Regions from separate parts of the Homo sapiens genome. Here region 1 is linked to region 2. Evidence: fine-mapped expression QTL. A gene starts in region 2. The other region holds a variant in brackets. All regions are shown on one strand. Distances are from middle to middle. Region 1 overlaps THOC5 (THO complex subunit 5). Region 2 holds the start of THOC5 (THO complex subunit 5).

The links.
Region 1: its variant is fine-mapped to the expression of THOC5 in monocytes (Fairfax 2014, PIP 0.95). The same link has a PIP of 0.9 or more in B cells, NK cells, monocytes after LPS and monocytes after interferon gamma.

Annotation. Positions count from the first base shown.
Region 1 is chr22:29,496,051-29,512,237 of GRCh38, forward strand. It overlaps THOC5 (THO complex subunit 5), which reads right to left. Exons shown (of 20, transcript NM_003678.5): 18 at 15,971-16,086; 19 at 15,056-15,246; 20 at 9,829-12,470. The coding sequence ends at 12,407. Among named protein-coding and RNA genes, the nearest start is that of NEFH, 24 kb to the left of the region's middle. The variant G/A (reference allele first, on the strand shown) is at 12,315.
Region 2 is chr22:29,547,856-29,564,042 of GRCh38, forward strand. THOC5 (THO complex subunit 5) reads right to left here and starts at 5,902. Exons shown (of 20, transcript NM_003678.5): 1 at 5,816-5,902; 2 at 1,197-1,303. The coding sequence starts at 1,292. NIPSNAP1 (nipsnap homolog 1) reads right to left here. Exons shown (of 10, transcript NM_003634.4): 5 at 13,937-14,007; 6 at 13,651-13,791; 7 at 13,316-13,347; 8 at 12,879-12,973; 9 at 11,015-11,098; 10 at 6,953-8,144. The coding sequence ends at 8,080. RefSeq lists enhancers at 4,025-4,724, 6,122-6,819, 6,203-6,272 and a silencer at 5,613-5,802.

The DNA.
Region 1 (16,187 bases), 52 kb before region 2:
AAAACCTGACAAATTATTTGACATGAATGACCGTGGGTAAAATTGAATTGAAAGTCTTTTACTGGGCCAGGTGCAGTGGCTCATGCCTGTAATCCCAACACTTTGGGAGGCTGAGGCAGGTGAATCACCTGAGGTCAGGAGTTCGAGACCAGCCTGGCCAACATGGTGAAACCCTGTCTCTACTAAAAATACAAAAATTAGCCAGGCATGGTGGTGCGCACCTGTAGTCCCAGCTGCTTGGGAGGCTGAGGCAGGGAGAATCACTTGAACCCGGGACAGGGAGGTTTCAGTGAGCCAAGATTGCACCACTGCACTCCAGCCTGGGCAACAGAGCAAGACTCCATCTGGAAAAAAAAAAAAAGAAAAGAAAGTCTTTTATTGAACTACTGGAGACTGCGGGAATATTTAGTCAATTTCAAAGACAAAACAAGTAATAAAAGGGAGGAAAACATTAACTCCAGGAGAAGTGAAAAATTGTGTGTAAGAAGAAGTTGTAATTATTATATACTAGCCAATTCAACAGGTAACAATATTTACCTAATAGTAATAAAAGCAATGAATATGGATTATACCAGAAAGTAAGCTAAATAAATGGGAAAGATGGGGAAAGGGGCAAAGGGATGTGTGACTGATCAAAAATAGTCATCTCAGCTGGATGTGGTGGCTCATGCCTATAATCCCAGCACTTTGGGAGACTGAGGTGGGCAGAATGCTTGAGCCCAGGAGTTTGAGACCAGCCCGGGCAACATAGCGAGACCTCATCTCTACTAAAAAAAAAAAAAAAAAAAATTAGCTGGCCATGGTGGCCTGTGCCTGTAGTCCCAGAGGCTAAGATGGGAGGATAGCCTGAGTCTGAGAGTTTGAAGCTGCAGCAAACTATGATGAAGCCACTGCACTCCACCCTGGGCAACAGAGGGAGACTCTGTCTCAAATAAAATAAAATAAAGCTTCCCTGGGTGACCCTTACTTAGAAAAACCTACATTCATTCATTCATTCATTTATCGAGATAGAGTCTTGCTCTGTCACCCAGGTTGGAGTGCAGTGGCACCATCTTGGCTCACTGCAACCTACACCTCTCAGGTTCAAGTGATTCTCCTGCCTCAGCCTCCCGAGTAGTTGGGATGGGACCACAGTTGCGTGCCATCACGCTTGGCTAATTTTTTATATTTTGGTAGAGACGTAGTTTCGCCATGTTGTCCAGGCAGGTCTCAATCTCCTGAGCTCAAGCAATCCACTAACCTCAGCCTCCCAAAGTGCTGGGATTACAGGTGTGAACCACAGCACCCAGCATCATCAGCATTATTTCTGTTGCAAGTGACCAAAACAGAATTAAACTAGTTTGTGCAAAATACTTACTAATGCTGCTGCTGCTGATAAATATATTAGCTTACATAACCCCAAGGAGTTCAAGAAGGTTGAATCGTAGCTGGGCGTGGTGGCTCATGCCTGTAATCCTAGCACTTTGGGAGGCCGAGGTGGATGGATCGCCTGAGGTCAGGAGTTCGAGACCACCCTGGCCAGCACAGTGAAACCCCGTCTCTACTTAAAATACAAAAATTAGCTGAGTGTGATGGTGCATGACTGTAATCCCAGTTACTTAGGAGGCTGAGGCAGGAGAATCACTTGAACCTGGGAGGTGGAGGTTGCAGCAAGCTGAGATTGTGCCACTGCACTCCAGCCTGGGGGACAGAGTGAGACACTGTCTCAAAAAAAAAAAAAAAAAAAAAAAAAAAAAAAGAGAAGCTTGAATTGCTTCAGGAATGGCTGGATCCAGGGGAACTCTCAAATGATGTTCCCCAGGAAGCTGTCACTCATTTCTCCATCTCTCAGCTGCTTCCTTTTGTGTCAGCTTTAACGTCAGGCAGAACATCTCCATGTGGTCTCCAGAAGCTTTGGGCTTATATCCTACCAGGTTAGCAAACTCAGGGGAGAAAAAAGAACTCTTGTTCAATATTCCAGTAAAAGTCCAGGGTTTGGTTCTCACTGGGCTGGTAGGGCCATATGATCCTCCTTGAGCCAATGCATGAGACACTGATGAGCTAGACAGAGTTCACCTGCTCATCCCTGGAGCTAGGGAATATGTCAGACCCCTCAGTCTGAAATTGAGAGTTTGAGAGGGGAGTTTCCCAAAGGAAAATAGAAGTACTCTTAGCAGGAGAAAAAGGAGTGAATGTTGGACATTGGTAATGATAAATGTCCACAGTGGATGGAGTGCAGGTAGCAGAAGATCCAAAAGAATGATAATACCCAGTGTTAGCAGCTATGTAGAGAAACCTGAATTTTCTGGAGCTAATGCTTGGAATGAAAATCTTCCAGGAAGACAATCTAACGAAATATATCAAAAGCCTTAAAACCTTAGTCTTTTTTTTTTTTTTTTGAGATAGAATCTCACTCTATTGCCCAGCCTGGAGCACAGTAGTGTGATCTTGGCTCACTGCAACCTCCACCGCCTGGGTTCAGGCAATTCTCCTGCCTCAGCCTCCCAAGTAGCTGGGATTACAGGCACCTGCCACTGTGCCCAGCTAATTTTTGTATTTTTAGTAGAGATGGGGTTTCACCATCTTGGCCAGGCTGGTCTTGAACTCCTGACCTCGTGATCCACCCACCTCAGCCTCCCAAAGTGCTAGGATTACAGGCTTGAGCCACTGTGCCTGGCCTCAAGCTTAGATAGTCTTTAACCAAGGTATGCCACTTTGAAGAATGTATCCTAAATAAATACTTAGGTATATACAGAAATATTCAAATATGAAATCTATGTACCTCAGTTTTGGTTATAATTTGGAACAACAGAAAATATACTGATTATACACTAATAGGAGACTGGCTAAATAAATTACATCTATATTAGTAAACATGTTAAAGCAAAAAATAAAACTAGTTTGTTTTTAATTTTTATTACTTTATTTTTCCATAAGTTATTGGGGAACAGGTGGTGTTTGGTTACATGAGTACATTTTTTAGTGGTGATTTGGGAGACTTTGGTGCACCCATCACCCAAGCAGTGTACATTGCACCATATTTGGAGTCTTTTATCCCTCACCCCCCTCCCACTCTTCCTTCCAAGTCCCCAAAGTCCATTGTATCATTCTTACGCCTTTGCGTCCTCATAGCTTAGCTCCCACATATCAGTGAGAACATACAATGTTTAGTTTTCCATTCCTGAGTTACTTCCCTTAGAATAATAGTCTCCAGTTTCATCCAGGTCACTGCAAATGCTGTTAATACATTCCTTTTTATGGTTGAGTAGTATACCATCATATATACATATATATATTCACACCTGTAATCCCAGCACTTTGGGAGGCTGAGGCAGGTGGATCACCTGAGGTCAGGAGTTCAAGACCAGCCTGGCAAACATGGAGAAACCCTGTCTCTACCAAAAATACAAAATTTAGCCAGGCATGGTGGCACACACCTGTAATCCCAGTTACCTGGGAGGCTGAGGCAGGAGAATCACTTGAACCTGGGAGGCAGAAGTTGCAATGAGTGGAGATCACGCCACTGCACTCCAGCCTCGGCAACAGAGTGAGACTCCATCTCAAAAAGTAATAATAATAAATGAATTAAAAATAAATAAAAATAAAAAAGCCTTAATTAGGGCTGGGCACAGTGGTTCATGCCTATAATCCTAGCACTTGGGAGGCTGAGGCAGGTGGATCACTTGAGGTCAGGAGTTCAAGACCAGCCTCACAAACATGGTGAAACCCTGTCTCTACCAAAAAATTTATAAATTAGCCAGATGTGGTAATGCACACCGGTACCAGGTCCCAGCTACTCAGGAGGTTGAGGCAGGAGAATCACTTGAAGTCGGGCGGCGGAGGTTGCAGTGAGCCGAGATGGTGCCACTGCACTCCAGCCTGAGCAACAGAGCAAGACTCCATCTTTAAAAAAAAAAGCCTCAATTAAAAAAAAATAGCTTCCATAAATTTAAAAGAATTGAAATCGTACAAAGTACGTTCTCTGATCACACTAGAGTAAAAGTTAATAACTAATCTGGGAAAGTCACAAATATGTGAAAAACAAACACTCCTAAATAACCAATGGGTCAAAGATGAAATCAGAGGGGAAATCAGAATATTTTTAGATGAACGAAAATGAAGATATAACATATGAAAACTTACGGTATGCAAGTAAAACAATGCTTAGAGGGAAATTTAAAGTTGTAAATGTCTACATTTAAAAAGAAGAATGAGGCCAGGCACAGTGGCTGACGCCTGTAATCCCAGCACTTTGGGAGGCCAAGGCTGGAGGATCACTTGAGCCCAGGAGTTCCTGACCAGCTTGGGGAACATAGTGAGATCCCGTCACTACAAAATAAAAATTAAAAAATTAACCAGGCACAGTGGCGTGTACCTGTAGTCCCAGCTACTTGGGAGGCCAAGGCAGGAGGGTTGCCAGAGCCCAGGAGTTCAAGACTGCAGTGAGCTACAATCACACCACTGCACTCCAGCCTGGGTGACAGAGCAAGACCCTGTCTCTAAATAAATAAATAAAGGAAAAGAAGAATGATCTCAAATCAATAACCTAAATTTCTACCTTAAGACATTGAAAAAAGAAGAGCAAAGTAAACCCAAAGAAGGATTAGAGTGGAAATTAATGAAATAGAGAATATAAAAATGACACAGAAAATCAATGAAATTAAAAGTTAGGTCTTGGCCGGACGCAGTGGCTCACACCTATAATCCCAGCACTTTGGGAGGCTGAGGAGGGCGGATCACCTGAGGTCAGGAGTTCGAGACCAGCCTGGCCAACATGGTGAAACTCCATCTCTACTAAAAATACAAAAATTAGCCAGGCATGGTGGCGAGCGCCTGTAATCCCAGCTACTTGGGAGGCTGAGGCAGGAGAATTGTTTGAACCCGGGAGGCGGAGGTTGCAGTGAGCCAAGATTGCACTCCAGCCTGGATGACAAGAGTGAAACTCTGTCTCAAAAAAAAAAAAAAAAAAAGGTCCTAAAAAGACCAACAAAATTCACAAACCTTTAGCTAGACTGACTAAGATAAAAGAAGAAAAGACTCAAATTACTAAAATCAAGAATAAAAGAGAAGGCATTAATGCCAACCTTACAGAAATAAAAGGAATTATAAGGCAATACTGTGAACAACCGTATGTCCACTAATTCAATAATTTAGATTAAATGCATAAATTCCTAGAAATATAAAAACTACTGAAACTGACTCAAGAAAAATGAGAAAATCTGGCCAAGTGGGGTGGCTCACACTTGTAATCCCAGAACTTCGGGAGGCCAAGGCAGGTGGATCACAAGGTCAGGAGATCAAGACCAGCCTGGCCAACACGGTGAAACCCCGTCTCTACTAAAAATACAAAAATTAGCCAGGCATGGTGGCACGTGCCTGTAATCCCAACTACTTGGGAGGCTGAGGCAGAAGAATCGCTTGAACCTAGGAGGCGGAGGTTGCAGTGAGCCAAGGTCACTCCATTACACTCTAGCCTGGACAACAAGAGTGAAACTGTCTCAAAAAAAAAAAAAAAAAATTCAGTCTGGGCGCAGTGGCTCATGCCTGTAATCCCAGCACTTTGGGAGGCCAAGGTGGGCGGATCACAAGGTCAAGACCATCCTGGCCAACATGGGGAAACCCCATCTCTACTAAAAATACAAAAATTAGCTGGGTGTGGTGGCACGCGCCTGTAATCCCAGCTACTCGGGGGGCTGAGGCAGGAGAATCGCTTGAACCCGGGAGACGGAGGTTGCAGTGAGCTGAGTTTGTGCCACTGCACAATCCAGCCTGGCGACAGTGGGAGACTTCATCTCAAAAAAAATAAATAAATAAAATAAATAAATAAATAGCAAGCAAAAATTAGCCAGGCATGGTGGGGCGAGTACTTCTAGTCCCAGTTACTCGGGAGGCTGAAGCAGGAGAATCGCTTGAACCTGGGAGGCAGAGGTTGCAGTGAGCCAAGACTGCACCACTGCACTCCAGCTTGGGCGACAGAGTGAGACTCTGTCTCAAAAAAAAAAAAAGAAAAGAAAAGAAAAGAAAATCGGCTGGGCGCAGTGGCTCACGCCTGTAATCCCAGCACTTTGGGAGGCTGAGGCAGGTGGATCATGAGGTCAGGAGATCGAGACCATCCTGGCTAACACGGTGAAACTGTCTCTATTGAAAATACAAAAAATTAGCCGGGCATGGTAGCGGGCGTCTGTAGTCCCAGCTACTCGGGAGGCTGAGGCAGGAGAATGGAGTGAACCCGGGAGGCGGAGCGTGCAGTGAGCCGAGATAGCGCCACTGAGTCCAGCCTGGGTGAAAGAGCGAGAATCCGTCTCAAAAAAAAAAAAAGGAAAGAAAATCAATTAATGTAGTACACTACCTTGCCTTAAAGAATGAAGGGGAGCTGGGCACGATGGCTCACACCTGTATTTCCAGGTACATGGGAGGCTGAGGTGGGAGAATTGCTTGAGCCCTGGAGTTGAAGGCTGCAGTGAGCTTTGATTGCACCACTGCACTCCAGCCTGGGTGACAGAGCAAAACCCTGTATCTAAAACAAAAAACACAAAACCAATGGTGAAAAGCTGAAAGCTTTTCCCCTAAGATCAGGAACAAGACAGAGATGCCCACTTTCACAGTTGTATTCAACACAGTACTGGCAGTCCTAGCCAGAGAAATTAGGCAAGAAAAAGAAAAGGCATCCAAATTGGAAAGGAAGAAATAGAACGATCTCTATTTGCAGATGACATTATCACATATATAGAAAATCCCAAATAATCCACAGTAAACCCTTTTATTTATTTATTTATTTAGAGACCAAGGTCTCACTTTGTCCCCAAGACTGGAGTGCACCTGTGTGATCATAGCTCACTGTAGCTTCCAACTTCTGGGCTCATGTGATCCTCCTGCCTTTGCCTTCTGAGTAGCTGGGACTACAATTATGCGCCACCATGCCTGGCTAATTTTTAAATCTTATTTTTGTATAGACAGGGCTTCACTATATTGCCCAGACTGGCAGAAAAGTTTTTTTTAATTACTAGAGTTAATAAATGAATTCAGTAAAGCAGCAGGGGACAAAGTCAACACACAAAGAACAATTGTATGTCTACTCACCAACAATGAACAATCAGAAAAAGAAATTAAGAAAATAATTCTATTTATAATAGTATCAAAAATAATAAAATACCTAGGGATAAATTTAACCAAGGAGGCAAAAGACTTATACACTAAGTTTCATTTAAATAGGACAGTGAATGTAAAAGTGTGATTAGCACAGGGCCTGACCCAAAATAGATGCTTAATGCCTATTCTCATCAGAGACACTGCTGAACGCCATAGAAAGGACAGAGTCGGCTACACCGACAGGGACAAAGTTCCTTTGGAAGTCTGGCAGCCCTGCTCCTTCCTAGGGATAGAGTTTTGCTTAGCTTTGCGGAGTGATCAGCAAGAACACCCTTAAGTTTATGAAAAGAGTCTGTGGAGTTATTTGCAGAGAAAATAGTAAGGGATAAGCTAGGAAGAAAATAAGGGAGAAACTAGAAGATACCAATAAATCAGGAATGTGGACGGCAGCTTTAAAAAGGCAAGGAACAGGCCTGACATGGTGGGTTCACGCCTGTAATCCTAGCACTTTGGGAGGCCGAGGTGGGAAGATTGCTTGAGGCCAGGAGTTCAAGACTAGCCTGGGCAACATAGCAAGACCTTGTCTCTACAAAAGAAAAAAAAATGTTTTAAAAAAATTGTAAAGGGGAAAAAAAAAAAAGCAAGGAACACAGGCTGAGTCCCAGGTACAAGAGAGCGACAGATGGGCTGCGGTCTGCGATATGCCCCAGAGTATAATCTGCCAAAAGTCCGTGGACAATTCCAGCTGAGGAGGAAGCTTCTAGGTCCTCCCAAGCCAGTCCCTTTCCCCCTAATCTGCCCACCCTTGGCATGAATGGCTAAGTAGCTCACAGGGGAGGGATTGACCTGGGCTTCTCGCTTGTTTTAAAATCCTCCTTAAAGCCAAGGGATTCTTTTGTTCAGTCTGCTTCTCTGGAAAGGGAAAATCTCTTCTGGAGGGTGACAGGCTCTGATATCCCCTGTCTAAGAAGCAAAGCCTCTTCCCAGCCCTCACAAGCCCTCTTTGAAATCTTGTCCCGGCTTCTGGAGATGAGCTTTTGTGCTGAGTCAGTTTGGCTGCCTTCCAGCCAAGAACAGAGAAGTGCAGGCTGCAATGCAGGGGCCATTAAACTATTTTTAGGCTCTATTTCAATCTTATTCAGCACAGGCGGTGAGACACAAGGCCTGAAGGTGGACAGACCAGGGGGATGCCGCCTGGGACAAAGTCCCAGGCAAGTAGGTCAGGGAAAAGACAAGGAGATCTCGCTATGTGGAGAGAAATACTTAGCCAGGCGCGGTGGCTCACGCCTGTAATCCTAGCACTTTGGGAGGCCGAAGCGGGCAGATCACGAGGTCAGGAGATCGAGACCATCCTGGTTAACATGGTGAAACCCCATCTCTACTAAAAATATAAAAAATTAGCATGGTGGTGGGCGCCTGTAATCCCAGCTACTCAGAAGGCTGAGGCAGGAGAATTGCGTGAACCCGGGAGGCTGAGGTTGCAGTGAGCCGAGATCATGCCACTGCACTCCAGCCTGGGCAACAGAGCGAGACTCCGTCTCAAAAAAAAAAAAAAAAAAAAAAAAAAAGCACCCAGATGCTCATGCTGCTACCCAAGTGCAGAAGACAGAAGAAAGACAGCTGCCCAGAGAATTTGGCCCTGTAGAGTCATCAAGAAAAATGAAGAAAGGGAAGGGAAGGGAAGAAAGTACAGTGCCTTCCATAAAGAGACCAGGGCAGCCTATACCCAGGGATCCTTGTTAAAAATACACTTCCTGGCTGGGCGTGGTGGCACGCACCTGTAATCCCAGCACTTTGGGAGGCCAAGGTGGGTGGATCACCCGAGGTCAGGAGTTTGAGACCAGCCTGGCCAACATGGTGAAACCCTGTCTCTACTAAAAATACAAAATTAGCCGCACACTTATAATCCCAGCTCTTGGGAGGCTAAGGCAGGAGAATCACTTAAACCGATGAGGTAGAGGTTGCAGTGAGCTGAGATTGCGCCCTTGCACTCTAGCCTGGGCGACAGAGCAAGGCTCAAAAAATAAAAATAAAAAAATACACTTCCTTGGTGCATCTCAGGTCAATTGAGTCAGAATATTTGGAATGGGACTTGGGTGTCTGTGTTTCTAATCAGGTGCCAGGATGGGTGACTCCCACACAGGCTGAAGTTCGAGGACCTCTGAGCTAGAGAGTACCTGCCTTTGGAATTCAAAGGACTGATGTGGACTGAGGGTAGCGGTGGTGATTTAACAGCCACCAAAGGTACCATTCTCTTCTCCTTGCTAGGCTCAGGTTTCTTTTCTTTTTCTGAATGGGGACTCACTATATTACACAGGCTGGTCTTGAACTCCTGGGCTCAAGCAATCCTCCTGCCTCAGCCTTCTGAATGGCTTGGATTATAGGCATGAGCCACCACGCCCAGCAAGGATCAGGTTTTCATCCGTAAAATGAACGGCCCTGCTAGGGGCAGGAATTTATTACTTAGCTCTTACTCTTAAAATCCTTATCCCTGGGATACTCAGTGGTCGGCAGAGAGACCTGGAGGAATAGCTTTTATACTGGAGGTCTGCATTATCCATGGAAAATCAGTAAAAGTCCACTTAGGGGGAATATGCTTATGATGGGAACCAAGCTTAACAGCATGTTGTGGGGGGATAAAGTTTCATCAGGACAATCACAAAAAATAAAATGTGTTTCCTCTTGGAGTTAGCAAACTATATCTGCAACTATGTAATAATTCTCAAATATTTTTACATTTCTACATCTTTTTTTTTTTTTCCAAGACGGAGTCTTGCTCTGTTGTCCAGATGGTGCAGTGGCACCATCTCGGCTCAGTGCAACCTCCGCCTCGGGGATTCAAGCAATTCTCCTGCCTCAGCCTCCCGAGTGGCTGGGATTACAGGCGCGCACCACCATGCCCAGCTAATTTTTGTATTTTTAGTAGAGACGGGGTTTCACCATGTTGGCCAGGCTGGTCTTGAACTCCTGATCTCAGGTGATCCGCCCACCAGCCTCCCAAAGTACTGATATTAAAGGCGTAAGCCACTGTGCCCAGCCCATCTTATTTTTTAAAATGAAGAATGGAGTACTGATGGTGGGGTCAAGATACACTTTTTGACAAAACTGTCCAAGAATAGTCTATGCCATCCTTTACTTTGACTTGCAGGAGTATTACAAAGGATGTAATTTTATGAACATTTTAAAGGTTGTTACCTATCTTCCCAAGACTTCTCTTAATCAAATAATTATATTTTGAGGCACTTTTGTCATTACCTTAAAGACTCTACTCAGGCCGGGTGTGGTGGCTCATGCCTATAATCCTAGCACTTTGGGAGGCCGAGGTGGGAGGATCATTTGAGCCCAGGAGTTTGAGACCAGCCTGGGAAAAATAGTGGGATCCCGCCTCTACAAAAAATTTAAAAATTAGCCAGAAATGGTGGCACACACCTGTGGTCCCAGCTACTTGGGAGGCTGAGGCAGGAGGATCACTTGAACCCAGGAGAGGTTGAGGCGGCAGTGAGCTGTGTTCGTGCCACTGCACTCCAGCCTGGACAACAGAGCAAGACCCTGTCTCAATAAAAAAAAAATATTCTCCTCAAATGTTACCTGGTCTCACTGTCCTGTATCTCTGTATGTGATTGATTCTCCAACACCACTCTCGCCATCTCCATGAAATCCTGTAAGACTTAGAATTACTCTCTGTGAAGTACAGTTGATCTCTGAACAATAGTTTGGACTCTGTGGGTCTATTATATGCAGATTTCTTTTTTTAAAATTTTTTAGAGATAGGGACTCGCATTGTTTCCCAGGCTGGAGTACAGTACAGGCACGATGAATAGCTCACTGCTACCTTGAACTCCTGGACTCCAGTCATCCGCCCACCTCAGCCTTCTGAGTAACTGGGACTATTGGTGCATACCACCACACCTGGCTGATTTTTAAATTTTTTGTAGATACAGGGTCTCTCACTACGTTGCCCAGGCTGGACCTGAACTCCTGGCCTCAAGGGATCCTCCCGCCTTAGCTTTCCAAAGTACTAGGATTACAGTCATGAGTCCCTGCACAGATTTTGTTCAATAAAAATAACAGTGGTGCCTGCCTCCCCCTCCACCTCCCCCACTTTTTCTGCCTCTGCCATCCCTGAGACACCAAGACCAACCCCTCCTCTTCCTTAGACTATTCAACCCTGAGACAGTATGTGAAGACCTTTATGGTGATCCACTTCTACTTAATAGTAGATATATATTTTCTTCCTTATGGCTTTCTTATTTATTTATTTTTGAGACGGAGTCTCACTCTCGCCCAAGCCGGAGCGCAGGAGCGTGATCTTGGCTTACTGCAACCTCTGCCTCATGGGTTCAAGTAATTCTGCCTCAGCCTCCTGAGTAACTGGGACTACAGGCATGCGCCACCACGCTTGGCTAATTTCCATGTTTTTAGTAGAGACAGGGTTTCACCATGTCGGCCAGGCTGGTCTCAAACTCCTGACCTCAAGTGATCCACCCGCCTTGGCCTCCCAAAGTGCTGGGATTACAGACGTGAGCCACTGCACTCAGGCCCCCTTGTGACTTTCCTTATAACATTTTCTTTTCTCTAGTTTACTGTATTGTAAGAATACAGTGTATAAGATACAAAATATATACTGAAAATATGTACTGACTATGTTAGCAGTAAGTAACTACTAATAGCATACTACTGGTCAACAGCAGGCTATTAGTTAAGTTTTTAGGGAGTCAAAAGTTATACACGGATTTTTCAACTGTGCAGGGCAGGGGGTGTTGGTGCCCCTAACCCCTGAGTTGTTCAAGGATCAACTGAGTTTGTCTTCTGTTTGCACTGCACTGTCAGACATTTATAACATCCAACGATCAGAGACAATTTGTCCATCGGCAACCCTGACAGGACTAATGGGAAGAGCGGGTGGGGAGGGAAGAGTTTTGCTTTTTGTGCTCTGCTGCCTTTGGCTTCTCCTACCACCTCTTAACAGCAGGAACTTGGGATAATAAATACAAGATCATGAGGACCTCACCCCGCAAAGCACAAATAGGGTGTGCGTAGACAAGAGGTGAGCATCTCTCTGCAGAATTGGAATCTTTTTCCACTCTGCTTTTATTGGCTGCTGAGAAAAAGTCTCTCTACAAATGCTTTTTCACACTGTGTCACAGCTCCCACCTGCCCTTCCAGACTGCAAAGCCACCTTGCCAGGAACCACAGACAAAGGCCACTGGTCAGGTGACGCTTTTTAATTGGCTGGTGTCTTTGGA[G/A]AATATCAAGAGTCACATGTGGGCCAGAGCAGAAAGCAGAAGCCCAGTGCTCAGGGTGAGGCCTTGGGGGAAACAACGGTCTGCGCGGGAGATCAGCGATGGCTGAAGAATCCCTGAGGATGGTTGTATTTAAATGGCTTCATCCTGCTAGGACCCCTAGAGAAATAGGAGAACGGAGTTGTTAATAACACACCTTCTAGGCTGATAAAATAAATTATGGTTCATTCACACAAGGGAAAAAGAAGAGGCAGAGTTACATGACACAGAATGTTGTTGAGAAAAGCATACGGCAGAACAACATATAAGGTGCGATACTATTTTTGTAAAAATGTCTTTTTGTGCTTGCAAATGAGTGAACACAAACTTGGAAAGGCCCTCACTGACAGTGGCACTTCGGGGACATAGCTTTAGGCACCCTCACTTTTTAGGATTGTTCCTTTTTTTATTTTTTGAGACGGAGTCTCTGTGTCGCCCAGGCTGGAGTGCAGTGGCGTGATCTCGGCTCACTGCAACCCCTGCTTCCCGGGTTCAAAGGATTTTTGTACCTCAGCCTCCCAAGTAGCTGGGATTACAGGCATGCACCACCACGCCCGGGTTTAGGTTGAGGTTTAGTTTAGGTTTTGCCATGTTGGCCAGGCTGGTGGAACTCCTGGCCTCAGGTCTCTTGCTGCCCATGCCAGCACTCTGCATCCTGGCCGGAGAGCCTTGCCTCTCACATCTACCGGCCATAGAGTTAACTGGATCTGAGTCACTGAAGGAGCACCTTCCCAGAATGCTGACAGAGGAGCTCAGCCTGGAGACACAACAAAGCCCTTCAAGAATGGGGTCCTTTGGCCGGGAGGTGGAGGTTGCAGTGAGCCGAGATCATGCTACTACACTCCAGCCTGGGCGACAGAGTGAGACTCTGTCTCAAAAAAAAAAAAAAAAAGAAAAAAGAAAAAGAAATGGGTCCTTTGGGAACCACTGGAGAAGAGGAAATCAATGCTGGCCATGTGAGAATTCCCACCCTGGCAATGTGCTAGAATGGGCTGGGCAGGTGAGAAGAGCAGAGGTCTCACACAAGCCCTCTAGGGAGAGAGCAAGTCCTAGAAGGTGCCAGCATCTGGCCACCAGCTCCACCTCCCAGCAGCCACTCAGAGCTGGAACTGGTTATTATGAGATAACATAATGAACCAGGCCAGTGGAGGTGTCAGATGAGGTGAAAGGATGCTGGGACTGCTTCTAGGGGCTAGAACTGGCTGTCTGAGAACAAGGTGAGGGAGAGGTAAGGCACTGTTTAGACTGACAGGGAACAGAGAACAAGGTGAGGGAGAGGTAAGGCACTGCTTAGACTGACAGGGAACAGAGAACAAGGTAAGGGAGAGGTAAGGCACTGCTTAGACTGACAGGGAACAGAGAACAAGGTGAGGGAGAGGTAAGGCACTGCTTAGACTGACAGGGAACAGAGAACAAGGTGAGGGAGAGGTAAGGCACTGCTTAGACTGACAGGGAACAGAGAACAAGGTGAGGGAGAGGTAAGGCACTGCTTAGACTGACAGGGAACAGAGAACAAGGTGAGGGAGAGATAAGGCACTGTGTAGACTGACAGGGAACAAGGGGGGATGTTCTGATTAGAAACAGATTATCACTCTTCTTCCTTCCCAAACACTGCTCCCCGCCAACCTCATGCAGAAGGGAAGGGATGCCTGAGCAGTGAAATCTGCAGTTTTGAAACTGACTCTTAAAAGAACATGAGTTAGAGGCTGAAAGGGAAATAAAGGACCCAAAATGAAAGAGAAAGGAAAAGTAGCTGGAAGTGCCATGAGCCCAGACACTCTTGAGTACCAAGCTGTCAGGAACTGCTGGCATTTTCCGAGTCCCAGTCCTGTGCCAGGACTTTATATGAATTACTTCTGCTTCATCATGAGCTAGAAGGTATTACTTTCACCATTTCTGTCTTTAGAAAATAGGGGTCAGGCACAATGGCTCATGCCTGTAATCCCAGCACTTTGGGAGGCTGAGACAAGCTGATCACTTGAGCCTAGGAGTTTGAGACCAGCCTGGCTAATATGGTGAAACCCCATCTCTACAAAAAAATTTAAAAATTAGTTGCGTGTGGCGGTGCATGTCTGTGGTCCCAGCTACTAGGGAGGCTGAGGCGGAAGGATCGTTTGAGCTCCAGAGGTCAAGACTGCAAGGCTACAGTGGGCTATGATCATGCTGCTGCACTCCAGTCTGGGCAAGAGAGTAAGACCGTGTCTCAAAGAAAAGGAAACAAACAAACAAAAAGCTGGAGGAGGGCTCAGAGCTAAGCAGAACTGACTCTTCTAAGGTCAGCAGCAAAACAGAGATCTGCACTCCTATCTGTTTTACTTTGAAGCTGGTTCCTTCTGTGCCACCTGACTGCCTAAGCTGTGATTCTCACTGACAGGACAGTACCCTAGAAAGACCACAGCAGACTCCCTGGGGACAGGCGAGGATGCACACAGTTTAAAAAGCTTATTTGGACACTAAAAAGCAAACAAACTCTATTGTTTTCCACAGAAAGTATAGAAAATAAAGTTCAGCCAAATCCTCTTGGCTCAGACCTGGCACTAACACCTTCAGGAGGTGTTAGTGAAAAACAGGTGGACCAGAGTGATAGGCATCGGCTGCAGGGGAAGTTTCAGGAAGGAAGAAGCAAGCTCTCCCCAGAAAATCTGGCTCTGATCTCTGTCCCACATCACCATGAGAAGTCACCAGAGCCCCAACCCTCTCCTCACCTGAAGAGCCGCAGACACATCTTCTCCTGGGGAAATTCCTTGGGCCCCTCCACACTGTCGTCATGGCTCTCGGTCTCCAGGTAAACATCCAGCAGCACACACAGCCGCTGCAGCTGGTTGGTCAACAGCTGGTGGCTGGGCCAAGGGCCACACAGCTCCTTGTAGCACACATTGACTTCGCCCTCCATGGCCTGTGTGATAGGAAAGCCAGCATCTCAGCACTACCTTCCTGCATGTGGGGGACCACACTGGCCAGGCTTCCGTCCCTGGATGGGCCCGAGCGCTGATGCCTCTGCAGGGGCTGGGCCAGGGGCTAGGCCATCAGATCAAGCTAGACTGGCTTGTCCTCAGGCCCCCTCATCAAGACAATGAGGTCTTCCTGATTCTGACCCATAGCTTTCCCTGCCTCATATGCCCACAGCCAGGAAAACAGAGGTGTGCAGGGAAGCAGTCTCAAAATAAGACCTAAGTCAGAAGATGTTGGTTAAAAACGTGTTCCATGGCATGTTTGACTTAGTAGCAGCAATGCTGATTAACAACTGCAATGCTGATTAACAGCTGCAATGCTGATTAACAACTGCAGTGATGTCATTCCTCATGTCATTCCAGTGCTTCTATAATGCTTCAGAGCTTATTCACATTTTTTATAGGAGCCCAAGCCAATAACCTTTCAAGGTAGGTATTTCTCCTTACTCTCTAAGTGGGGAAACCTGTGGACCCCAAGGTAGGCAAGTAGGTCTGGGCTCTTTCCTCTAGTACACCACACAAGCTCCAGCAAATTCTGCAAATCCTGGCACAACCTTCTGTTTTGGGAATTAAGGCAGTGCCCAAGTCCTCAGCTGCAGTGGGTTCTGCCACGGCCACCTCCCCCGGGAGCTCTGCCTGCTCCTCCTGTCATCCCCAGCTGGGTCTTACCCGAATGTTGTCATCGTTGCTGTTGGTTTTCTCCCCTTTCCAGTTCAAACAGAGCTGGAAAACAGGTGGGATGGAGGAGTAGCCAGGGTTCAACACCACAGCGGCCTGCAGTTTGGCTGGGAAGAGAGGAGAGAGGGGAAATGCGCAGTTCTAAGACTCAGCTTGCCAGCCATGGCAGCCTCCCCACTGCACCCCTGAGGCTAGCTCAGATGTCTCC
Region 2 (16,187 bases):
AGTTTATTTTCACGCTGCTGATAAAGACATACCTGAAATTGGGAACAAAAAGAGGTTTAATTGGACTTAACAGTTCCACATGGCTGGTGAGGCCTCAGGAACATGGCAGGAGGTGAAAGGCACTTTTTACATGGCGGCAGCAAAAGAAAAATGAGGAGGAAGCAAAAGCAGAAACCCCTGATGAGCGCATCAGATCTCATGAGGCTTATTCACTATAATAAGAACAGCATGGGAAAGACCGGCCCCCATGATTCAATTACCTCCTCGTAGGTCCCTCCCACAACACATGGCAATTCTGGGAGATACAATTCAAGTTGAGATTTGGGTGGGGACACGGCCAAACCATATGACCATCCCAGTAAATACAGATCTCAATCAAAATGGCTGCATGACAGTCTCCTATAGAGAGGAATTCCAGCTGGGTGCGGGGTGGCTCACACCTATAATCCCAATACCTTGGGAGGCCAAGGCAGGTAGATCACTTAAGCTCAGGAGTTTGAGACCAACCTGGGTAACGTGGCAAAACCTCATATCTACAAAAAATACAAAATTAGCTGGGCATGGTGGCGTGCAGCTGTGGTCCCAGCTACTTGGGAGACTGAGGTGGGAGGATCGCTTGAGCCCAGGAAATGCAGTCTGCAGTGAGCAGAAATCGTGCCACTGTACTCCGACGTGAGCGACACAGTGAGACCCTGTCTCAAAAAAAATTTTTTTTAAATAGCTAAGTCACAAATGAAGTTGACAGATTCAAGGACAGAGAAACAGACAAAAAGAAGAAAAGAACCTGACGACCACATGAGCTCTCAGGCCACAAAAGAGGTTCTGTGGGCACATGGTTCTGGTATTGTCTCAGCAGCACACCGAGGGATTCCTGAAGCTCCAGTGCCATGCTGCAGATGGACTACCTTCTTCTGACCATCAGGAAAACTGGAGACACATATCATACTGGAATACATTCTCTGGGTAGGTATAATCATGTCTAATACAGGCTTGTTGGTTTTGGAGATGCTGCAGCTAAACCAGATGTGGACACTCAGCTTTAGTGAAGAAACAGGAATCCCAGTCACCTGGTCAAGTGGAAGCCACCAAAAAGTTGTACCTGGTAGATGCGACCCCGAGCTGCTGCAAACACACAGCCAGGTGCTTGGCCATGAGATGTAATTTCTCAGCAGCATGGCAACCCTGACTGATCTCACCTGCTCGGTGTCAGATCGATTCCGCTTTCCTTCAGCTGGGGCTCCATCGCTTCGGATCACTTTGGGCTTCCGTTTTTTGCTCGATTCTGATGACATGGTTGTTCCTCCTGTTAAGAGGAGAAAGTTTTTGAGATTCTTCTGGAGTCATAACACTGAAGTCAAACTAGCAGTTCTGGCCACTTACAGACTTGGTAACTCAAGGAAAGTCATTTAACCCCTCAAAGCCTCAATTTAACCCTCTGTAATACAACAGGGAAGCATCTCTCAGCCTGTCCAAAACAAACTCCACCTTCTCTTTTAAAAAGGCATCACCACCCACTCCCACTGACCTCGGAATCATCTACTTCAACCTCTCCCTGCCCTGCCTCCACCCACATCCTGCTCCACACTCTCCATAGAGGAGACCTGCATTCAAGTGTTCACCCAGCTATCCAGGCACCATGTGTGTCTCCATCTCAACACCCTAGGCCAGGCCCTCCACATTCCTCTCCAGGACTACTCTAACAGTCTTGCCCAACAATACTGTCTAAATTCTCTTTCTTAAAAAAGACCGACCTAATTAATGCCTCTCCTGTTTCAAAACCTTTGCTGGCTCTTCATAATGCACTGAATATCCATATTCCCTGACTTGTCATAAAGACCCTTGATGGTTTGTCCCCAACCTACCTTCCCAACTTCATTTCTTGCATTCCTATTCCTACCGACCTTCCCACTGTCCCCAACCTCTGCTCCTAGCTGCAACTGCACCCTGCAATCCCAGTTCCCCAAACACTCCATGTCTTTTCCCCTGCTTGCAAAGATCTTCCTTTTCCTCCCTATATCCTTCAAGACTAAGCAATGCTCATCTGCTCTAGGAAGCCTGTCAGGTCTCCCCAAAGCCCTCTTTTGGCTACTTTGGGTACACTATTAGGGAATTTATCTCTATGAATCATTTACCTGTCTTCCCACCTAGATTGTGAGCTCTACCCTCTTCCCCCTGAGCCTGGCAGAGTGCTCCATAAATTAGTATCCAAACTCCTCGGTCTGGCATTTAAAGACACTCCCAATACTACTGTGATCACTGTGTGCTGGGCCTTGATCTAACTACTTTATGGGTATGTTCTCATTTGCTCCTTATAACAAACTTTTCAGCTAAGAACTACCACCATTTCACAGATGACAAAACTGAGGCTCGCAAGGGGAATTACTTGCAAGTAATTGCGAGTCACATGACTAGTAGGCCAAAATCCGGATCTATCCAATCAATGCCATACTGGTGCTCTTAACTACACTTTTATGCCTCCTAGTCCTGCCAGCCTCTCATCTAGTGATGCCATTGACTCCCAGGTTGATCCTAGAATTTAAAGTATAGAACCTACATTTCATGGGGCTCTACAGTCACAAAGCATCCTCCCTTGTTGCCTCACCACAGCCTCCTGAGGTGGGCAGCACTGTCCCCTTTACCCTAATCCCTCTTGCTCTGTCACCCAAGCTGGAGTGCAGTGGCACAATCATCACTCACTGAAGCTTCCACATCCCCGACTTGAGGGAGCCAATAGTTTGTCACGGTAAAAGTCAGAGAGCCCTGAACTGGAATCTCCATTCTACTCTTTCATGGCTATGAGTCCCCGGACGAGTCACTTCACTTTTCTCTGGGTCTGATTCCTCACAAATCAAATGAGAATAACAGTCCCTACCACAGGGGTTGTTGTGGGCTTTAACACAGGAGGCATTCCACTGGGGAAGGTGATGAAGATGACCTGGGACTGTGGCTTCAGATGATGCATAGGTGATCTTAAATAATGCTGAACACCTAAGGAGAAAGTTAATCCCTTTTCAATTCTTATTTTGAAACTTCTGATTGCTTCAAGGAGAACATCTCAGTTCCCTAGTTTGTCTTTAACATCTATGAATGCCAATGTTCCTTTGTAACAAAAGAACTCTATCCCACAGCCTTAAACAACAAAATCTAGCCAGAGTTTGTTAACAATGATCTAGTTGCATTATATTAACTATATTAATTTTTACCTTCTACATAAAACAAGTGAAAGCAGCTTTCCATTTCTGGTGGAGAGATTTCAAGTTTTCTCTCAAAGTAAATTTGAGTTTAAAAAGTGACTTGGCTGGGCGCAGTGGCTCAGGCCTGTAATCCCAGCACTTTGGGAGGCTGAGGCGGGTGGATCACCTGAGGTCAGGAGTTTGAGACCAGCCTGGCCAACATGGTGAAACCCCGTCAGTACCACAAATACAAAAATTAGCCGGGAGTGGAGGCGGGCGCCTGTAATCTCAGCTACTCAGGAGGCTGAGGTAGGAGAATCACTTGAACCCAGGGAGCAGAGGTTGCAATGAGCCGAGATCGCAGCCACTTCACTCCAGCCTGGGCAACAGAGCGAGATTCAGTCTCAACAACAACAAAAAAAGTGACTGGGCCCAACACCATGGCTCACACCTGTAATCCCAACACTTTGGGAAACCAAGGCAAGCAGAGGTGAGAGAATCGCTTGAGCCCAGGCGTTCAAGACCAGAGTGGGCAACAGAGCGAGACCCCATCTTTAGAAAACATTTTAAAATTAGCCTAGTATGGCGGTGCACACCTGTGGTCCCAAGCTACTCTGGAGGCTAGGGTGGGAGGATGGCTTGAGCCCAGAAGTTCCAGGCTGCAGTGAGCTATGATCGCGCCACTGCACTCAGTCTTGACAACAGAGATCCCGTTGCAAAAAAAAAATTTGGACTGGATTAAAAATTTTTAGTAAACCCCTCCCCCTCCCCCCTCCCCCTCTCTCCACGGTCTCCCTCTGATGCCGAGCCGAAGCTGGACTGTACTGCGGCCATCTCGGCTCACTGGAACCTCTCTGCCTGATTCTCCTGCCTCAGCCTGCCGAGTGCCTGCAATTGCAGGCGCGCGCCGCCACGCCTGACTGGTTTTCGTATTTTTTGGTGGAGACGGGGTTTCGCTGTGTTGGCCAGGCTGGTCTCCAGCTCCTGACCGCGAGTGATCGGCCAGCCTCGGCCTCCCGAGGTGCCAGGATTGCAGACGGAGTCTCGTTCACTCAGTGCTCAATGGTGCCCAGGCTGGAGTGCAGTGGCGTGATCTCGGCTCGCTACAACCTCCACCTCCCAGCCGCCTGCCTTGGCCTCCCAAAGTGCCAAGATTGCAGCCTCTGCCCGGCCGCCACCCCGTCTGGGAAGTGAGGAGCGTCTCTGCCCGGCTGCCCATCATCTGGGATGTGAGGAGCCCCTCTGCCCGGCTGCCCAGTCTGGGAAGTGAGGAGCACCTCTTCCCGGACCCCATCCCGTCTAGGAAGTGAGGAGTGTCTCTGCCCGGCCGCCCATCATCTCAGATGTGGGGAGCACCTCTGCCCCGCCGCCCCGTCTGGGATGTGAGGAGCACCTCTGCCCGGCTGCGACCCCGTCTGGGAGGTGAGGAGCGTCTCTGCCCGGCTGCCCCGTCTGAGAGGTGAGGAGCCCCTCCACCCAGCAGCCGCCCCGTCCGGGAGGTGGGGGGCAGCCCCCGCCCGGCCAGCCGCCCCGTCCGGGGGGGAGGTGGGGGCCAGCCCCAGCCCGGCCAGCCGCCCCGTCGGGTCGGGGGTAGGGGGGCGCCTCCGCCTGGCCGCCACCCCGTCCGGGAGGTGGGGGGCGCCTCTGCCCGGCCGCCCCTTCTGGGAGGTGAGGAGCCCCTCTGCCTGGCCGCCACCCCGTCTGGGAGGTGTACCCAACAGCTCATTGAGAACGGGCCATGATGACGATGGCGGTTTTGTCTAGTAGAGAGGGGGGAAATGTGGGGAAAAGATAGAGAAATCGGATTGTTGCTGTGTCTGTGTGGAGAGAGGTGGACAAGGGAGACTCCATTTTGTTCTGTACTGAGAGAAATTCTTCTGCCTTGGGATGCTGTTGGTCTATAGCCTTACCCCCAACCCCGTGCTCTCTGAAACATGTGCTGTGTCCACTCAGGGTTAAATGGATTAAGGGCGGGGCAAGATGTGCTTTGTTAAACAGAAGCTTGAAGGCAGCATGCTCCTTAAGAGTCATCACCACTCCCTAATCTCAAGTACCCAGGGACACAAACACTGCGGAAGGCTGCAGGGTCCTCTGCCTAGGAAAACCAGAGACCTTTGTTCACTTGTTTATCTGCTGACCTTCCCTCCACTATTGTCCTATGACCCTGCCAAATCCCCTCTGCGAGAAACACCCAAGAATTATCAATAAATACTAAAACAAACAAACAAACAAATTTTTAATAAACGGTAGTAGAGGTGGTAAGTTGATCTGGCAAAGCCTACAAAGACCGGACCTGAAAGGCTTAAGTGTGGGAAATCCTGACTTTGGCAACACAGTAGAGTGCCTGGCACACCGAAGAGCACGATATATGTGAGCTGTTACCATCACCACCACCCCCACCCCCATCAGGCTACATTACCACAATCAAGAGGCTCCAACGTGAAGCCTGAGGATGCTGCAGCGAACACTTTTCGGATGAGGTAACAGCGCAGCGCCGAGAGGCCGGGGACCGCGGGTAGTGAGGGAGGAGAAGCCGGGTCAGACCCCAGCCCAGGGGCGCCCTTTGGGCGATCAGCACCTCAGTCCCGGAGCGCCCAGCCCCGCCCCATCTCCCAGCCCCACTGCCCTTGTCCCCTCCTCACCTCACAGCTCCAAGAACCTGGCACCGGGAGTAAGCCACTGCCGGAGGCGGAGCAAAGCTTGCCCGCGCACCATAGAGAACCGGAAGTAAGGAAGGGGCGGCCGACCGGAAGCGAGGCGTAGAGGCCGGAAGCTCAGCGCGGAGGCCCCCGAGGGAGGTGGTGGCGTGGTGAGACTGTAAAAACAAAGACACATGCTTCTCGTTCACTGTGCCCAGGGCCTAAGAGAGTGTCCAGCAGCTAGTGGGCGCTCCACCGAGTAGTTGAATTAATGTTGTGTTATGTCCAAGATAACACGAAAGAACCTGGTAGCGCGGCGGGGAAGATTTCGGCGCTAGAGGATTTGCCTGCATAACCTTACTTCTTAATTATTATTTTTACCATAATATGCCACGCCAGTGAAGGCAACAAGTCAGGGAGGGCATTAACCTCATTTTACACTTGGCTTTTTGAGGAGTGCATCACCAGTTTCTCCATTTTAGGCCTGACTTGCCCAGGACAGAGTCACAACTCTAACGCAGTATTTGAAAGCTTCAGGTATTTCCTACCCCTGGCATGAACTGTACAAACAAGGCCCAGGATTTTTTCGTGTAAATCCTCATCTGGAGCTAGTAACACGTGTCCTGAATCCCTGGTTGTACGGGGCCAGTTCCTTCTCCTTCCCAGGAGCAAGGAGGAAAATACTGGCTCTTTTTTATTTTTATTTTTATTTGAGACAGAGTTTTGCTCTCTCACCCAGGCTGAAGTGCAGTGGCGCAATCCCCGCTCACTGCAAACTCCGACTCCAGGGTTTAAAGGATTCTCCTGCCTCAGCCTCCTAAGTAGCTGGGATTACAGGCATGCACCACCATGCCCAGCTAATTTTTGTATTTTTAGTAGAGACAGGGTTTCACCATGTTGCCCAGGCTGGTCTTGAACTCCTGACCTCACTCAAGTGATCTGCCCACCTCGGACTTCCAAAATGCTGGGATTACAGGCGTGAGCCACTGCACCCAACCAGTACTGACTGTTGAGAATAGCTCAAGAACACAGTACCCTCCAGGAGGGTAGATCTGCCATGTGGGACTAAGCCCACCAGCTCTACTGTGCCCTGCCTCAGGCACCTGCTAAAGTTCCTTGCAGATGAAGAAAAGACACTGATTTATAGTAAATATTTAATTGTTTCCATCAGCAATTCCAGCACAAGTTTTCCTGGATGGTAGGCAGAATCAAGCTACCCAAGGGTTCATGATGAGGTATGGGGGTCACTGAGGAGACCCCCAGAGTCACTGACCCCTCCCGCCACCTCCACACACCAGGTGGCCCTGCAGAATGAGGGTTGGGCTGATAGAATGTCAATTAGGGGAGACAGGATACAGGGTGAGGGAACAGGGTCTAGCTTGTATATTTGCCTGCAGGAAGGAGGGAGGGCAGGAGAGACTCTGCATAGAAGGACTGGAACTACACATTTAAGTTTTCAACCCCAATATGCAGGGGGAAACAGCCAAGCCACTCTCCATCTGTCTAGTATTAGGAACCTCTCTTCAAGTGGTCTTTTGTCATCTCTGTTCTTCTTCCCAATTCTGTATTCCAGATTCCAAATTCTACAATTGAAACCCAAGTTCTGAATTCTAAGTTCTACCTTCCGAGTTCCTGTTACGTGTCTGTCTCCTGCCCCTAAATCTTTCCTGGCTCCCATCCCTTTCCCCAGCCCCTCTGGGCAGAATGTCTGAACCTCCTCCTGACCGTGGTGACGAGGTTTGTTTGTATTTGTTTTTTTGTTTTGGCAGTTCCAGGCTTTTCTCCAGCAGGAGGGACTTGGCTCAGACTGTCCAGCAAGTGGGTGGCCCAGTGGAAACCAGGGAATTCCTGAGGGCCTGGCCTGGCCTCCTCTCTTCCCACCCCACCTCTAGCCACTGGACATACTACCTTTTGTGCAACTAAGCTAAACAGAGGATTTCCAAGGGTGATAACTGGGGACTGGTGGCCTTGAGATGAGGAATTTTAGAAGATAAATGAAGGCCTAAAAGATCACTATCTTTCATTCAGGGAAATCAGAAACTACTTCTAGCAGGGGGAGGGAGGCAGGCAGGGAAAGTAGAAAGGGCCTGGGCAGAGCTGTAATCCTCAGAACTTGTCAGCCTTCAGTTCCCCCTTGTCTGAACTGAGCACTGCCCCTCAGAGTCCTCCCAGAGCCAAGACAAAACCAAGACAGCAGGACCAGGAGTGCCACTGTCTGTCGGGGTTGCCTGAGGGAGAAGGGGAAGGAGGTGGAGGTGTAGGCAGCATCACTGCAGAGGCGAGATCTTCAAGGGGATCATGATCCTAGACTCCATGTGTCGCACCAGGGGGACTGCGGAGAGAGAAGGCAGAGGTCACACAGGGGGCTCAAGCAAGCCAACAACCTCCCCTGGCCCCACCCACACATGCTGGCCTTTGAGTGGGCAGGAGGAGGCCCCAGATGCTGCGACAGGAATGTCCCATTGCCCTCGTGGAAGGGCCCATGAAGAGCACCAGATCCCTCAAATTATGGGATAAGACAGGACTTTGGTGGTGATGAGAATAACATTTTCTTAAATTTTAATAGTTATCTGTTGGCCAGGCATGGTGGCTTGTGCCTATAATCCCAGCACTTAGAGAGGCCAAGACAGGCGGATCACCTGAGGTCAGGAGTTCGAGACTAGCCTGACCAACATGGAGAAACCCTCTCTCTACTAAAAATACAAAATTAGCCGGGCGTAGTGGCACATGCTTGTAATCCTAGCTACTCGGGAGGCTGAGGCAGGAGAATCGCTTGAACCCGGGAGTCAGAGGTTGCTGTGAGCCGAGATCAGGCCATTGCACTCCAGCCTGGGCAACAAGAGCAAAACTCCGTCTCAAAAAAAAAGAAAAGAAAAACACTGATTTAGACCAACTGCCTCGTTTTACAGATAGAGAGGGTGCAGCCTAGAGAAGGTCAGCTCCAGGTCATCCAGGAGGTTAGACTCTTTCCTCCAGCTCAGAGCTTTTCAAACTTTAATGTGCATACAAATCACTTGGCAGTTCTTGTTAATGTGCAGATTCTGATTTGGTAGGTTGCAGGAAGCCTGCGATTTGTTATTCTTGTTTGTTTCTTTGTTTGAGATGGAATTTCACTCTTGTTGCCCAGGCTGGAGTGCAATGGCACTATCTCGGCTCACTGCAACCTCTGCCTTCCGGTTTCAAGCGATTCTCCTGCCTCAGCCTCCCGAGTAGCTGGGATTACAGGCATGTGCCACTATGCCTGGCTAATTTTGTATTTTTAGTAGAGACAGGGTTTCTCCATGTTGGTCAGGCTGGTCTTGAACTCCTGACCTCAGGTGATCTGCCCACCTCAGCCTCCCAAAGTGCTGGGATGACAGGCGTGAGCCACTGCGCCCAGCCGAGATTTGTCATTCTTAACAAGCTCCCAGGGGATGCCAATACTGTCAGTTGGGACCACACTTGATTTTTTTTGTTTTTTGTTTTTTTTGAGACAGGGTCTCACTCTGTCTTCCAGGCTGGAGTGCAGTGGCAGGTTCTCGGCTCAATGCAACCTCCGCCTCCTGGGTTCAAGTGATTCTTGTGCCTCAGCCTCCCGAGTAGCTGGGATTACAGGCTTGAGTTACCATGCCTGGCTAATTTTTTTTATTTTTAGTAGAGACGAGGTTTCACCATGTTGCCGAGACTGGTCTCCAACTCCTGGCCTCAATTGATCCACATACCTCAACTTCATAGTGCTGGGATTACAGGTGTAAGCCACTGTGCTTGTCTTGTTTTTTATTATTTTTATTTTTTATTTTTGAGATAGGGTCTCACTGTTGCCCAGGCTGGAGTGCAATGGCACAATCATGGCTCCCTGCAGCCTCAAACTCCTGGGATCAAGTGATCCTCCCACCTCAGCCTTCCAAGTAGCTGGGACTACAGATGGGAAACACCACGTCCTGCTAATTTTTAAAAAATGTTTTGTAGAGATGGGGTCTCCCTATGTTGCCCAGGCTGGTCTTAAACTACTGACCTCAAGTGATCCTCTTGCCTTGGCCTCCCAAAGTACTAGGATTTCAGTTGTGAGCCACCATACCCAGCTGGGACCACACTGAATAGCAAGGCTCCTGCTAACTCCTTCAGCAGACACATTCTCCCTCATACCACCTGGTAAGTGATCACTGTAAACTTCTCAATGGCAAGGACAGGCTCTTGTTCATTTATGTGCCCCTCAACCACCTACCTACCACAGTTCCCGGCACACAGTGAGGGCTTAATTAACACCCACTGACTCTAGGTGGTTTCAGGTTCCTAGCAAAGTGGCAAACACCTTGAGCAAAAAACTTGTTCAAGGCTGGGCACAGTAGCTCATGCCTATGATCCCAGCACTTTGGAAGGCTGAGGTGGGAGGACTGCTTGAGCCCAGGAGTTTGAGACCTGCCTGGGTGACATAGTAAGACTGCATCTCTACAAAAACAAAAACCTTATTCAAAAACATTTCCTGCATGCTTCCTTTGTGACAGACACTGGAGAAAGCACTTTTCATAAATGAGTTTGTGGGCCAGATGTGGTGGCTCATGCCTGTAATCACAGCACTTTGGGAGGCCGAGGCAGGCGGATCACCTGAGGTCAGGAGTTCGAGACCAGCTTGGCCAACATGATAAAACCCCGTCTCTACTAAAAATACAAAATTAGCTGGACATGGTGACACACGCCTGTAATCCCAGCTACTCGGGAGGCTGAGGCAGGAGAATGGCTTGAACCTGGGAGGCGGAGGCTACAGTGAGCCAAGATCATGCCACTGCACTCCACCCTGGGTGACAGAGTGAGACTGTGTCTCAAAAATAAATAAAATAAAATAAAATATAAAATAATAAAATAGTTTGTAGAATCTTCCGTTATAGCCCTCTGACAGAAGCACTATCACCATCACTATCTTACAGACGAGGGAACAGCCTCAGCGAGGTAAAGAACCGTGCCCAAGGTCACAATGGGCGTTTGCTAATCCACATCTCCTAGGCAGAGGCGTGGCCCTGGCTATGTTATCATCCCCTAGAGTACTCACCTAGGCCTGCTGGTATCCTATGGAGTGTGCCACTTGGATAGAAACCCATTAACTCATTGTCTTAAAAGTGAGTTCCCCATCACTGGAGGTAATCAAGAAAGACTAGATCTCCTTGCAGAGAGGATTCCATCCTCAGACAGGGTTCTCAGCAGAAGACCTCCAAAGGCTTCACTCACCTGTATAGTAGACATTTTCATCCCAGCCTCTCTTCCTCCAGGCAGCGTTTCGAGTCTCCTCCCGAGACTGCAGGTCTTTATAGGCTGTGAGAAAGGCACAGGCTCATTCCTCAGGCACAGAGGACTGGATCCCTTACCCAGCACAGGGCCCTCTTCCCACTGTCCCCTAAACCCTGCACTGCTGTCTCCTCCTCCCTAGATGCCTCCCTCAGACTATTAGCAAACACTGTCTGCTTTAATCATCCATCCAATCAGTACATATGTTAATATTGCCTACATTTATATTTCTAGTCGCAAACACTCCCAAGGGCTCCAGACTCCTATATCCATCTACTGCCTACTTGACATCTCTACTTTGGTGTGTCAGCATTTTTAGTGTTAACACTTCCGGCTAGGTGCGGTGGCTCATGCCTATAATCCCAGCACTTTGGGAGGCCGAGGCTGGTGGACTGCTTGAGGCCAGGAGTTCGAGGCCAGTCTGGCCAACATAGCGAAACTCTGTACTAAAAATAGAAAAATTAGTTGGGCATGGTACTGCATGCCTGTAATCCCAGCTACTCAGGAGCGTGAGGCACGAGAATCACTTGAACTTGGGAAGCGGAGGTTGCAGTGAGCTGAGATCACACTACTGCACTCCAGCCTAGGTGACAGAGCAAGACTGTGTCTCAAAGAAAAAAAAAAAAAGTAACAATTCCAAGGGCCAAAATTACGCTCCTGACCCCACTGACTTGCTCCTTCCCTAGACCTCCCAGACTCAGGAGATGACACACAGCAGCTCAAGCACGAGCCTGGGAGCTCTTCTGGAATGCCCTTCTCCTTCTCTTGCCCCACACAGACAATTCATCCACAAGTCCTGTTGGTTCCACCTCTAGACTAACAAATCTTCTGTGGACTTCTCAGCATCCCACTGCCCCATCCCCTCCTGCCTGAACTAGAGTAATGGCTTCCTGAAGCCCTGCTTTCTCTCTTGCTCGCCTACCAAGCACTCTTAACAAAGCAGACAGCAGCCAGAGAAATCATACTAGAACAAAAATCAGGTCGTGTCACTGCTATTTGAAACAAATAGTCTCTCATTGCATTTACAATAAATCCCAACTCATTCCCCCTCTCCTGTTCCATCTCCCCACATTCTTCCCTACTCACTCCACACTGGCCTCCTTGCCACACCTCAAAACCCCGAAGGCCTTTCCCCACCACAGGGCCTTTGCATGTGCTGCTCTGTCTACTTGGAATGCTTTTGCCTAGCAATTCACAGCTGGCTCCTTCTCATCCTTTAGCTCTCAGCTTACATTTTACTTCCTCAGAGAGGCATTATTTGTCTACCTAGACCAATGTAGATCCCCTATGTTTTTCACCATCATCTCTCCCTGCCTTTTTTTTTTTTCTTCTTTTTTTTTGAGACGGAGTCTCGCTCTGTTGCCAGGCTGGAGTGCAATGGCGTGATCTCAGCTCACTGCAACCTCCACCTCCCGGGTTCAACTGATTCTCCTGCCTCATCCTCCCGAGTATCTGGGACTACAGGCATGCGCCACCACGCCCAGCTAATTTTTGTATTTTTAGTAGAGATGGGGTTTCACCATATTGGCCAGGATGGTCTCGATCTCTTGACCTTGTGATTTGCCCACCTCGGCCTCCCAAAGTGTCGTGATTATACACTTGAGCCACCGCTCCCAGACTCCTTGCCTATTTTCTATAAATATTATTTGTAATCTGAAATTGATCTTTTTGTGACTTTACATCTAAGATAGTGTCTCCTGCTAGAACATTAAGTTCTATGAGGACACTAATACAACCCCATTGGCTACAGAGAGTGATGACAGAGAAAGAGAACTAACAAAAGGCTCCTGGAAGGTCCTCAACCTACCCCAGAGATGGTGCACCACGTAGAGCTCTCCTATCTGTGAGAAGAAGCCGCCCACTGCCTCCTGGTTCTCCTGCCGGTACTTGATGGCCCGAGCCCTGGAGAAGGCACAATAATATGGGGCAGAAGCCAGGGCTGGTGCAGAGGGTACTGAGGCTGATTCCTTGGCCACACTTCACAGGAGGGGCCTAGGTGGAACCCACGGTCCTCCGGGATGCTGAGAGAAAGGACTGATGGCGGGGTGTTCTACCAACGGAGGGGTCACAACCTTCTAGGAGATCCTCACCTCCTGGCTGGATCCTTCTCCCAGATCCATGAGGGGCAGAAGGTAAAGAGTTCCCTGTGATATGGCCCTGGAAAAGGTGGCCCACCAGGGGCCTTGGTGGGGCAGGTGAGCAGGGTACGCCTCCCCCAACCCCAGTCTTGGTGCTGCCACTTACCAGTTGTTCCCCCACTCGATCATGGTTCCTGGCTGAAAGAGAACCAAAGGGATGATGGGAATGAGCCCCCACCTCAGATTCATAGCATCACAGCTTGGCAAGGAAGGGAAACTGCCCTGTCTCCCCACCTCCCAAGCTGCAGCGGCCATTTGGCCTCATTCGCAGGCCCTGACACACACCTGGTGTGCATGTTTGCACACATGTGTATACAACTCTGCTCTGAGCCCATAGGGAGGGAGAAGCCAGAAGCCCCAGTCTAGGTGTTGGGGCAGCTGCAAAGCAGCATTGCAGCAGGGAAATTGGGGGGCAGGAGGGGGTCTGTCGGAGGGAGGCACCTTGAGCTTGTATGTCCTCAGCTCATAGATGTTGGGACCCATTCTGGGCTGTGGCTCATTCCAGAAGCTGAACTCGAGGAGCAGCTGGTTTCTCCTGGACAGCAGCATCTGGCTCCGCTCCCTTCGGAACTCCAGGTACTCCTGTGGGCATGGTGGTAAAGGCATGGCTACCAGGAAGTGCGCTCCATCCTGACAGTGTGCCTCATGGGGTAGCAGAGTAGTCCCCAGAACAGGGCTGGGCTGCATCCCACATCCAGAGAGGTGTGCTGAGTGGACACTAACATACCTTATTGTTTTTGAGCTTGTTCATGCAGTCCATGAGGGCTGGGTAGCCACCTGAGAATCGCCACAGGTGCACTGTTGGGGGTGAGAGGTATAGGTCAGTGAGCTGCTGGGACCCCCAGCAGATGACCTCCTCAAGGTTGGCTAAGTGGTGGGGACGGGGGAGGCGGGGTGGCCTGGTTCCCTGTAGCAGCAAGACTCCCTGAGTTCCCTCTGCCTTGGTGGAAGACCATGCTGGGGAGGGGATGACCCTAGACACAAGTCTAGGAGACCTGGATTTGAGCTCCAGCTCTGCCCAGCAGCCTTGGACTGCTCTAGGCCTCAATGTTCTCATCTTGAAAATGGGAATAATGTTCCCACCCCACCTTCCTTAAATAGCAACAAGAAGATCAGATGTGTCCTGTACCCTGGAAGCAGTGGCATGCATAAGGAAGACCACCAGGCCTTAGAGGGGCAGCTGAACAAAAGAACAGGGGAGAACTGATGGGCTGATATGGAACATTCCAAGACAGTGAATTGAAAAAAGGAACCAAGGAACAGAAGAGGATGTGTGGTATGCTACCTCATGTGTTGAGGTGGCAAGGACATCCAGAGATGCTAATTTATGCATCACCTCTTAATGGCGACTTAAGAGATTGACAGTAGACCAGGCGCAGTGGCTCACACCTGTAATCCCAGCATTTTGCGGGGCTGAGGTGGGTGGAGACCAGCCTGACCAACATGGAAAAACCCCATCTCTACTAAAAATACAAAATTAGCCAGGTGTGGTGGCGCATGCCTGTAATCCCAGCTACTTGGGAGGCTGAGGCAGGAGAATCACTTGAACCTGGGAGGCAGAGGTGGCGGTGAGCCAAGATTGTGCCATCGCACTCCAACCTGGGCAACAAGAGCGAAACTCCGTCTCAAAAAAAAAGAGATTGACAGTAGATGCCCCTGGGACACAGAATGGAGGCCTGTGGGGCCTCGGGCAGGAGGGAAGCTTACTTTGCATGGAAAACTCTTTGTACTGTTAGAATTTATAAAAATCCTGGGCCGGGCACGGTGGCTCACGCCTGTAATCCCAGCACTTTGGGAGGCTGAGGAAGGTGGATCACGAGGTCAGGAGATCGAGACCATCCTGGCTAACACAGTGAAACCCCGTCTCTACTAAAAATACAAAAAATTAGCCAGGCGTGGTGGCGGGCACCTATAGTCCCAGCTACTCGGGAGGCTGAAGCAGGAGAATGGCATGAACCCAGGAGGCAGAGCTTGCAGTGAGCCGAGATCATGCCACTGCACTCCAGCCTGGACAACAGAGCGAGACTCCATCTTAAAAAAAAAAAAAAAAAATTAGTTGGGTGTGGTGGCACATGCCTATAATCCCAGTTACTCGGGAGGCTGAGGCAGGAGAATCGCTTGAACCCAGGAGGTAGAGGTTGCAGTGAGTCAAGATTGTGCCAGTGTACTCCAGCCTGGGTGGCAGGGTGAGACTCCGTCTCAAGTAAATAAATAATCAACTTTGGGAGGCTGAGGCAGGTGGATCATCTGAAGTCGGAAATTTGAGACCAGCCTCACCAACTTGGCGAAACCCCATCTCTACTAAAACAAAAATTAGCTGGGCGTGGTGATGCACATCTGTAATCCTAGCTACTCAGGAGGCTGAGGCAAGAGAATCGCTTCAACCTGGGATGCAAAGGTTGTGGTGAGCTGAGATCGCACCACTGCACTCCAGCCTGGGCAAAAGAGCAAGACTCCGTCTCAAAAAATAAATAAATAAAAATAAAAATAAATAAAAATCATATTATCTGCACTGAGTTGAACAATGTCCCCTCAAAATTTATGCCCACCCAGAACCTCAGAATGTGACCTTATTTGGAAATAGGTCTCTGTGGGTATAATCGACCTAAGATGAGATTATACTAGGTGAGCCCTGAGTCCAGTGACTAGTGTCCTTATCAGAAGTGGGAGATCTGGACACAGGAGAACACTATGTGAAGACAGAGACACACAGAGAGAACAGCATGTGACGAGGGAGGCAGAGATTAGAATGACAAGTCTACAAGCCAAGGAACACTAAGAGTTTCCAGCAATCCCCAGAAACTGGAAGAGGCAAGGAAGGGTTCTCCCCTAAGGCCTTAGGAGGAAGGACAGCCCTGTCAACACCTTGATTTGTGACTTCCAGCCTCCAGAACTGTGACAGGATAAACCTCTGTTATTTTAAGCCACCCAGTTTGCGGTATGCTGGCCACCCCAGGAAACTAATCTAATTCCTAGTA